2 separate regions of the Homo sapiens genome follow, and region 1 is linked to region 2. The links come from fine-mapping of genetic effects on gene expression. A gene starts in region 2. The other region holds a variant in brackets. All regions are shown on one strand. Distances are from middle to middle.

Evidence for each region.
Region 1: its variant is fine-mapped to the expression of UBE2L6 in lung (TOPMed, PIP 0.99).

Annotation. Positions count from the first base shown.
Region 1 is chr11:57,788,564-57,793,939 of GRCh38, forward strand. CTNND1 (catenin delta 1) reads left to right here. Exons shown (of 21, transcript NM_001085458.2): 2 at 474-592; 3 at 2,822-3,110. The coding sequence starts at 2,916. TMX2-CTNND1 (TMX2-CTNND1 readthrough (NMD candidate)) reads left to right here. Exons shown (of 21, transcript NR_037646.1): 3 at 474-592; 4 at 2,822-3,110. Among named protein-coding and RNA genes, the nearest start is that of CTNND1, 29 kb to the left of the region's middle. RefSeq lists enhancers at 1-159, 3,714-4,008. The variant C/T (reference allele first, on the strand shown) is at 2,354.
Region 2 is chr11:57,565,550-57,570,925 of GRCh38, forward strand. It overlaps UBE2L6 (ubiquitin conjugating enzyme E2 L6), which reads right to left and starts at 2,123. Exons shown (of 4, transcript NM_004223.5): 1 at 2,036-2,123. The coding sequence starts at 2,062. RefSeq lists an enhancer at 524-873 and a silencer at 2,127-2,486.

The DNA of each region.
Region 1 (5,376 bases), 220 kb after region 2:
GCTCAGCCTAGGCTAGTCCCCACATGTCTTCCCCACACAACTTTTGCATTGGTTTCTCAATGTCTTTGTGGGCATGCTGGGACTGGGCTTTGAGGTTTCTGCCTTAGGGGTGGGAAGGGAGGGGGAAGGGCATTCCAACAGCAGTTTTTTTCTTTTTCCCCAATTTGGTTGCTGGAAACAGGGTAAATGGATTTTTATACATATTATAACCTGTTCCTGGTTATATATGGAAATACAAATAGAGGAGCTCTCACTTGACAGTAGAATCCAGGTTTTAATGAAAATGACATCCAAGGCCTAGGTATCTGAACACAACAAGGTCTAAAGGGCACTTGTCACATTAAGCAATTCCAAGTCATATTTTAAATTACTTCCTTTCATTCCTAATATTGCCCCTTGCTCTTCTTGTTTTTATGTATTGGGTATATTTTATTTTCCTCTCATTCCCATTTTTCCTTCAAATATTTCTGCAGCTCTCTCCTTCCTGCTTCCTCCTTGCTGTGGTGGCTGGGATGCTTCTTCCATGATTTTTTGAATCTAGACTGGGCTGTTCTCTGTGTTAAACCAATCAGTTGCGACCTTCTCTTAACAGGTGTGTATGGAAATATGTTTATTAAGAAGGAAAAATCTTACTTTTTAAGAAATATGTATTTTTATTCCTTTCATGTCATAGCAGAAAAAAATCTTTTTAAATACCTTTTTTCTTTATGGGTTGGTGAGAGGGTGGGAATTGGGGAGAATATTTATTTCAAAACCTGTCTTTCAACATTGTATATTTTGGACTGGCATAAAGTCTTTCATAGCTATAAGAGAGAAAAAAACCCATTGAGTCCAACAGAGTATCACTAATGCCTGTAAAACCTCCTGTTTATATAATGGTATGGAGAACTCTTCATTTTTATATAACTATCTTTTATTGTATAGATAGCACACATAGACCCTCTAGATACTTGGATATTTATCCTGAGTTGGAACAAATAAAAGGGTAAAAAGATAGTCTATTTAAAACAAGAGTGTCCAATCTTTTGGCTTCCCTGGGCTACAGTGGAAGAAGAATTGTGTTGGGCCATACATAATGTACGCTAAGGATAGCCAATGAGCTAAAAAAGAATTGCAAAAAAAAAAATCTCATAATGTTTCAAGAAAGTTTACAAATTTGTGTTGGGCCGCATTCAAAGCTGTCCTGGGCTGCATGCGTCCCGCGGGCCAAGGGTTGGACAAGCTTGAGTTAGAGGTTTCTGCAGGATTACAGAGATGTGGGAACTTCCAGCCATTGACGTGTGGAGGTTAGGATATGAACTACTGTGAGGTGCACTTTCAGAGGTTGAGGCTAATACTCCTTTTCCTACTTCCCAAGGAGGTGAAGTTTCCTGAAGACAGTGCTTTTTTACATGTAGAGTTTTTTGTGGTTCTGTTACTCTGTTGTCTCCATTAGTCAAGGAACACGTTTTGCCATCAATATAATATTTAACAAACTATAGTAGTATAGTTTGGAAAGTAGAAACGCCCTTTTATGAATGTATTATTATATTTTTGGAGGCAGAGTCTCACTCTGTTGTCCAGCCTGGAGTGCAGCGGTGCCATCTCGGCTCACTACACTCTCCGTCTCCTGGGTTCACGCAATTCTCATGCCTCGGCTGGGATTACAGGTGCCTACCACCATGCCTGGCTAATTTTTGTATTTTTAGTAGAGATAAGGTTTCCCCATGTTGGCCAGGCTGGTCTTGACCAACTGAACCTGACCTCAAGTGATCCACCCACCTCGGCCTCGTAAAGTGCTGGGATTACAGGTGTGAGCCACCTACTTTCATTTCTTTCTTTCTTTTTTTTTTTTTTTTGAGACGGAGTCTTGCATTGTCGCCCCAGCTGGAGTGCAATGGCGCGATCTTGGCTCACTGCAACCTCCGCTATTCTCCTGCCTCAGCCTCCCGAGTTGCTGGGATTATAGGAGTACGCCACCACACCCGGCTAATTTTGTCTGTGTGTGTGTTTTTTTTTTTTTTTTTTTTTTTGAGACGGAGTCTTGCACTGTCGCCTAGGCTGGAGTGCAATAGTGCGATCTTGGCTCACTGTAAGCTCCACCTCCGGCGTTCACGCCATTCTCCTGTCTCAGCCTCCCGAGTAGCTGGAATTACAGGCTCCCGCCACCACGCCCGGCCTTTTTTTGTATTTTTTTAGTAGAGACAGGGTTTCACTATGTTGGCCAGACTGGTCTCGAACTTCTGACCTCGTGATCCGCCTGCTTCGGCCTCCCAAAGTGCTGGGATTACAGGTGTAAGCCACAGTGCCCGGCCTTTTCATTTCTTAATTGGCATTTAGTTTAGCATAGTAATTTTTTTTTTTTAATTTGCTG[C/T]CACTTCAGCAGTTTTAGTGTTTAGATGTGGGAGAGGTTAAGTAAGATCTGTATTGCCCTATTATCTCTAAAAGTGGCTTGTCCCTGCAGGATAGTGAATGCTTGTCTGTACCATTGGAGTTACACATTTCATTGAGTTGATACCAGCAGATTTTTTTCAGGGAAAAATAATCCAATCTCATAACTACAGCACCTCACCACATTCTCCCTCTCCTAACAGTGTAGAGACTTAGATTTAATTGCACCTTTCCTTTCAATAGTTATTTCTGGTGGGATGTTGAAGAAAGCTAGTGGGCAAAGGATTCCGCTTGAACAGACACTGGTGATGGGCTCCCAGGCTTGGCGGTGGCTTGCTTTCTGCACTGCAGTAAAACCACGAGAGGGCATCTTTGGCTCTGGGATTAATAATTCATCTGTCTTCTCTGACCTGTGACCTTTTCTCTCCTTTCTCTTACCCTTTCCCGGTAGTGTGAAGTGAGGGGGTCTCTCTCCCTCCTTCTCCTTCCTCTGTGATTCACCTTCCTTTTTACCCTGCCCTGCGGCGGCTCCGCCCCTTACCTTCATGGACGACTCAGAGGTGGAGTCGACCGCCAGCATCTTGGCCTCTGTGAAGGAACAAGAGGCCCAGTTTGAGAAGCTGACCCGGGCGCTGGAGGAGGAACGGCGCCACGTCTCGGCGCAGCTGGAACGCGTCCGGGTCTCACCACAAGATGCCAACCCACTCATGGCCAACGGCACACTCACCCGCCGGCATCAGGTAACCCCTCTCTCCATCAGACGTGCAGGTAGGACTTTGGCATGGTCACAGAGAGGCTATGATCCTTTTTGGGAAGCTACTCTCCTTTTGGTGATGGGCTGTCCAGTGCCCGTTCTTCCAGGGATTTTTTTCCAGGGGTGTTAAATGCTGATAAGAGACAAGGAATATTGCTGCTGGACTGAGCTGGGTGCAGTTACTATCTCTAGAAGCATCCATCTGACTTCCTGTTTTGCTGGAGTAGGTTTTTTGGGGTGGGCTACAATTCTAGTAATGGTAGATAGTTTAGTTTGCAGCTGTACTCAAGTTACTTTTCTTTTCTGATTTTTTTTTCTTGGTATCAAAAAATCAGGAAAGTAAATGCCCACTTAATGGTTGGGCATCTTGTGCTCTCAGCCCTAGTTCAGTCTCCCTGAGGGAACAGTCTGTACCCAGGTGTGGCAGTATCCATAAATTGTGTACTCCTGCTCCATATTGTCCTTGTGTGCTCTTTTTGTTGGCTGTGTAAATCATGTGTTGGAGGAAGGGGTCATTGTTAATTCTGTTGGTTAGAGTTGGAGAGGGAGCATCATGCTGCTGTTTAACCCAAATAACCACAGGAGCCAGTGGTCTCTGGGTTGGCTGACTCTGTGATGTGACTTGGGAGAGTTGGTGTTAGAAATGAGAAGTATCTTGTGTTTCCTCTGGTTTTTCTAGTCTGACTTTGCTGTGATGTAATCTGTCTGAGGTTTTGTCTGTCTTCCTCTGTGTGTGTGTGCGTGTGTGCGCGCGCACTCGCGCATGTGTGTGTGTGGTAGACATTGCCTGATAGATTGCATCTTACGAGAGATCTCTGAGTGGGAACCAGAACAGTACTCATGCCCTGATAGTCCTTTTCATTGAGTAATTTTTATTTATTTATTTAAATAGGAGTGCAGTGGTGCAATCTTGGCTCACTGCAACGTTCGCCTCCCGGGTTCAAGCAATTCTCCTGCCTCAGCCTCCTGAGTAGCTGGGACTACAGGCGTGTGCCACCACACCCAGCCAATTTTTGTAGTTTTAGTAGAAATGGGGTTTCACCATGTTGGCCAGGATGGTCTCGATCTCTTGACCTCGTGATCCACCTGCCTCGGCCTCCCAAAGTACTGGGATTACGCGTGAGCTACTGCACCCGGCTGAGTGATTTTTTTTTTTTTTTTTTTAAGATAGAGAAAGTCCCTCATACTGAGGAGCCTTGCAGTTGAGAGAGAACAGAATTCCAGTTGGAGGATCAAGGAATTTGAGGGAGGCAGCATGCTTGCAGTGTTCCTAGGATTTTTACAGGAACTACAATAGAAAGTTAGGGATGAAATTATATTGAAAGGAGAAAGCTGGACTGCTCAGGTTTGGAGGTCATGGGGAATTCCAGGATTCAGTATGTGGTTGCTCTCTTATTTTTAACTTCTGCTTAGCAGTAAAACCACACCCTTCCTTCTTCCTGAAAGTAATGTTTAACTTCCTCTCCCTGCAGCATTACACTCTATGTAATGGGAGTGGGGTGGAGGAAGAGTCTCCCAAGGTGGTTGGATCTCACTATTCTACTGGAAGAGGAGCAGGCAAATATATTTTTATGTGGTATAATGTCATTAGATTATTTCCTGCTGCTTAAGACAGAGCAACTTCTGGATGACATTTTGGAATGTATTCTGTGGCTCTAATAATTGTTGGTAAAGATATTGAGCCTTCTGTTTTCTTGAGGGGAGTTGGGGTGCTTGTTTTTGTACTTGGAAAGGGAGACTCGTATCTCTTGCTTTTTTCTTTAATTAAATTTCTGTTTTTTACATTAGGACATGATAGCCATCTTGCTTCTTTCTTTAAAAAGCTGCCTGGAATGGGAGTTTCCAGTGGTAGTACTGCATGAAGATTCATGAGACTATAAAGCTCTTTGGAAACCCCCCAACTTAGCCCTTCCAACTTTCCTTACATTTTTATGGCTTTCCAAAAAGGTTGCATGTAAGGGAAATTATCTAGGTCTGTGCTGTTTATTCAGCAAATAGTTTTTGAGCACCTGTTATGTGCCAGGCACTGTTCAAGGCACTAGACTAAACTAAACTTATCCCAAAAAACCCTCTGCCCTCGTGGAGTTTACGTTCTTATGTTCCAGAGACCCTGTCTGCCAGAGTTCCAGGCCTGATTTTCAATTTTGAGGAAAGTGCTAAGACTAAAGAGTGAATGGTTCTTTTATGAGTACTGACACAAGGACTCCAGGCCACACATATCTTCTTGAAAGCCCTTTTCCTGTTTGAAAAAA
Region 2 (5,376 bases):
AGATGGGGTTTGGCTGTGTTACCCAGGCTGGTCTCGAACTCCTAGGCTCAAGCAGTCCGCGAACCTCAGCCTCCCAAAGTGCTGATATTACAGGAGTGGGACACCACGCCTGGCCTTCATTAGTTTTCATTTTGCTTGTTTGTTTATGTAATCAGTGTTAACTTGTCATCAGTTTAAAATAACAGGTTATAAGATATTATTTACAAACCTTGTAGTAACCTCAAATCTAAAAACATACAATGGATACATAACAGTTATGTGACCCAAAATGTCAGTAGTGATGAGGTTGAGAAACTGAAGCTCTCCAAACCCAGTCCACAAGTGGGGAGGGGTCCTTTAACACTGTGGACCATTTGAACTTTCTCTGCCTTACCCCCACCCCCAACATATAATATAAACACATCCCATGCCCCCCTCCTATCCCTCAGCCTATGTTCTATTTCTGTTCAACCAATAAGCTGCTTCTGGTGCCTTCCACCCAGGGTCAATGGCCCTTCATTTATCTTTACCCCAAACTAGAAGCATCTGCACTTGTAAGAGTTTCTCTATCATCTGTGACTCTTTGGCAAGAACAAAGCCCAGGGCTGACCGGAGAAGATCTGGAATAGACATTTTCCAGGTCTTGGAAAGATAAAGACACTTGAACTTTATCTGTTTAGGATGAGTTCTGCCAGAACTTTCCCAAAGCCTGAGGAAGTTGAAACCCAACCTAAAACACACAGTTCTTTCCTACTGCCTACTAGGAAATCACCTGACTCAGAGGAACAGAAAATGAAAGTAGAAAGGCCATTAAGAGAGCCTGCAGGCTGGAGGCCTGTGGACCTGGTTTCATATTCCAGTCCCATTGCTCCTTACTGAAAGACTCTGGACAAGCAAGTTATTTCCTCTGTGCCTCAATTTCCTCATTTGTAAAATGCGGGTATATATTACTTATCTCACAGAACTGCTGTGCGAATTAGATGAAATAACCATGTAAACCGTTTGGCATGTAATGGTTCCAATGCAATAAATTCTGGCTCCCATCTCTCTTCCACTTGGCTGGAAAGACCCTCTGCCTCATTTTGCTGCCAACCTCCAGATTTAGTATCTAGGCCAAGCCTGCTCTGGGCATCCCAGTCTGAGGCCATTTTCTTCTCAGAGGCTGAGGGTAGCAGGCACCCTCTTCCTAGAGCCTGCCCCTCCACCCTGCAGACTGGAAGGGGCACTTCTGAAAGACTTGGGGTGCCAGACTCACTTCACCAGGATCACCTTCCTCCCTAATCCATCTCCAAACACCCTGGGTTTTCCCACCTTCTGGAGGAAACTGCCCCCTCCCCATCCTTCCAGATCTTATTTCAAATTGTGTCCCTGATAGGAACAAAATTCAACAAGGGCCGGATTTGTGTTCATCTCTGCCCGCCCCCCCCCCCCTCCTAGAACAGGGCCAGCACATGTAGGCATTCAACACTTGTAGAACTCACGAACGCAAGCCACCTACTCCAGGAGGCCTTCCAGGTCCACCTCCGCATCTTTTCCTCCAGAGAATACTCAGGGAACTTTGTCCCAAATTCTAATCAGCATTCCGTGTTTCTCAGGACTCTAGTAATACAGGCATCAAATTATGGGATGGGCTATGGGCTTATTCCAAGGCAAGGACTTCATCCTGGTCATCTGTGTTCATAACCCACCACCAGCAGTAGCAGAATGCCTGGCACCAAGATGCCAAGGACTTTTCCTGCACTGGAGATGCACCCAGTTGTTATCACAAGTTTCAGGCAGGAAAAGCGAAATTGAAACCAGTTTTGGGGGAGCCGGCTCATCTTCACCACGCGAACGGCTCAAGCAGAGGCCTCCAAACCCCCAAAACCCCAGCTCTGGCCACTCTTGCAGGCCAGTCCTCCTCTGAGTAGAGGGCGGGGAGGACAGGGATTCAGCCAGCCCTGGTGCCCAGACAAATAAATAAATGTGCTCGGAGAGCCGCGGAGGGGATGGAGGGAGGAGGGAATGCGGGAGGCGAGGGGAGCCAAGAGAAAGGGGTCATCCTATACGCGGTTACCTTCACCACTCGCATGCTCGCCATCATGTCGGGACCGAGTGTGTGGCACCCGTGGCCTCCAGCAGGACCGAGCTCCGACCCGCGACACAGCGCGCCCCGCCCCGCCCCGGGGACCCCACCCCCGGCAGCCCCGCCCACCCCTCCTCCAGCCGTCGCTGCGTGGGCCTCCCCGCACCCGCTCCGGCGAGGCCAGGAGGCCGTCGAAGGACGACCCGCCGGACAACCGCCCGATCCCCGCGCGGAAGGCTCGGACCCGGGACTCACGGTCTTTGTGCGGAGACGGGGGCGGGCCTCGGGGCGCACGGCTTTGCTGATCCCTGCCTCCCGCGGGGTGCGCCGTGCACCGGCGGCGAGCGCTCAGGGGCGCTGGGGGGCGCTCATACGGGTTCCAGTCTTCGCTCCGCCGGCGGCCGCACCGGGAGCTCTCCGGTCTTTGTCAGCCCCCTGCACGCCGCCCCAAATACACACTCGCCCTGAATAAATAAGGGATGCTCGCTGTACAGACGCAGCTCCGTGACAGTTCTCAGCGGCCTCCACTATCGGACTGCCGCCTTGAGCCCCTGCCCCAGCAAGCTGCCGGAGCCGCCGAGCCTGCCGCCTTCCCTCCATGGGCCCAGCGCTCCATCTCCGAAACTGCGTGGGGGATGGCGTAGACCTGTGCCCTCCGAGCACCGCTCCCCGGCAGTCGGGGATCCTTTGTGCTGCCCGGCGTTCGGCGCGGGCTGCAACGTTTCTCCCCGTGGCTTGGGGCAGAGCACCGCAAGGAGGCGCTGTTGGACCCTTTCTCTTTTGCTTTGGGGGTTCGGTCTACCATCATTCAGTCCTTTACTAGGTTTAGTATTTACTAAGTGCCTACTGTATGCTGGTTTGGGAAACAGTTGGTGGGGGAAGCCCCAAGAAGGACTCAGGAGCCTCCTTTCCAAGAGAGAGTCTGCTTCCCCTCCCTTACTTTACTACTGGTCCATTACAAGCTGTGGGCCTAATGTGTGCCCCCATGCACAGCTGGAGTCCCCAACCCTCTGTGCAAGGACAGAGTACTTGCAGCCCCTGAGCACCAAGCAGCATCTGGGGAAGATGAGACTTGTTGGGAGGGCCGATCCCCTCCTTCTCACCCTTCCCTACCCCCGTTTAGTCCAGACGAGAAAGGAAATCAGTATATTTTGAGCACCAGTTTGTGATCTCAGTACCTCACAGTTTTTTTGTTTCTTGTTTTTCTGACAGAGTTTCACTGTCGCCCTGACTGGAGTTCAGTGGCGATATCGGCTCACTGCAACCTCCGCCTCCCGGTTCAAGCTGTTCTCGTGCCTCAGCCTCCTGAGTAGCTGAGATTTACAGGCGCGCGCCACCACGACCGGCTCATTTTTGTATTTTTAGTAGAGTCAGGGTCTCGAGCTCCTGGTTTCAAGTAATCCACCCGCCTCGGCCTCCCAAAGTGTTGGAATTACAGGCGTGAGCCACCGTAATGTTTTTATCCAAGTATTTTGAAACCAAATGACTTCTCTGCTCAGATTTTGCAGAACGATTAATTGTTTCATTCAATTCAATGAACTTTAACAGCATTTTCTATATGCCCGAAATGAATAGGACACTCCGTAATCCCTTAACAGGGGTAGAGATGAGGGAACAAAGACATTCGAACCTGCCTGTGATCAATAGTCTCAGTCAACAAGCGCCTACTACTGAGTGGCAGGCATTGCCAATAGGAAACACCAGGATGAGAAAGGGGAGTCCCTGCTCCTGAGGAGTTAGTTCCCAGACTACTGGGACAGAGGGAGAGAATGCAGCCCCTGATTTTTAATGATAATGCTATAGAGAATCACCTGGTACTCTGGGAGTATGAGGAGGGTCACTTTATCCCTCTTCAGGGAGGGGCAGAGGTTTCCCGGAAGAGAGAAAAATCCAAGTGTATTGTGAAACATGATGAGTCAGCGAGAAGTAAGAGCGTGGGATGAAGATGTTCTAACAAGAGGGAACAGCATGAGCAAACGGGGCAGTGTCTATGGAAACTGGAGCAAAAGCCTCTGTCCACGTATCGTAGCTCTCCTTTTCTTTTCTTACAGGAACGCTGCATCCCGAGGTGAATTAACAGTCATGGATATAGCTGGGTCCTAAGTCCCCACACAGTGGGGCAGCCCACTGGTGTGCCTTTCATGTCCTTTCACAATGCAGACCTTTGTGTGTCAGAACAAGCCCCAGGGAGACCTGGGTTCTAGTTCCACATCTGCCCCCATGTGCAGTTATGGCCTTGGGTGGTCGGCGGAAACTCCTATCTGCTTGCCAGGACCATTGTGAGGCTAAGCTGAGGGAAGTGGAGGAACTTAGAATATTGTAAGTCGCCGGGCGCAGTGGCTCACGCGTGTAATCCCAGCACTTTGGGAGGCCGAGGCAGGCGGATCACCTGAGATCAGGAGTTCGAGACCAGCCTGACCAATATGGTGAAACCTCGTCTCTACTAAAAATACAAAAATTAGCCGGGCATGGTGGTGGGTGCCTGTAATCTCAGCTAGTCAGGAGGCTGAGGCAGGAGAATCGCTTGAACCCAGGAGGCAGAGGTTGCAGTGAGCCAAGATCACGCCATTGCACTCCAGCCTGGGGGACAGAGCAAGACTCCGCTCAAAGAAAAAAAGAAAAGAAAATTCTAAGTCCGAGGCCTGGCATGGTGGCTCATGCCTATAATCCCAGCACTCTGGGAGGCCAAGGCAGGCGGATTACCTGAGGTCAGGAGTTCGAGACCAGCCTGGCTAACATGGCGATACCTCGTCTCTACTAAAAACACAAAAATTAGCCAGGTGTAATGGCGTGCGCCTGTAATCCCAGCTACTGGGGAGGCTGAGGCAGGAGAATCACTTGAACCTGGGAGGCAGAGGTTGCAGTGAGCCGAGACCGGGCCATTGCACTCCAGCCTGGGCGACAAGAGCGAAACTCTGTCTCAAAAAGCAAAACAAGAAAATTGTAATTCCAGGATATAAACAATCAGGTTTGAATCCCAGCTCCACTATTTTTGGCTAAATAACCTTGGGCACATTACTTAACCTGTCTGTGCCTCCATTTCCTCATCTGTTAAATGGAGCTCATAACAGTGGATGTGAGAAACAATGAGTTGATATTTGCAAAGAACTTAACTTTGAATGGTGGACAATAAGTGACAGTTATGATAATGATAACATAATAAATATTAAAATGATGTCAGGTGCCTGCCTCAGAGTGAATGTACCAGGCTGTAGGAACAGATGCCTGAGCTTGCTCCCTTAGAACAACAGCAACACTATTTTCTCCAGTAGGAGACCCTGTTTTACTTCTCCCTGATCTGGTCACTGGCATTTATTCATCCATCTACAAAA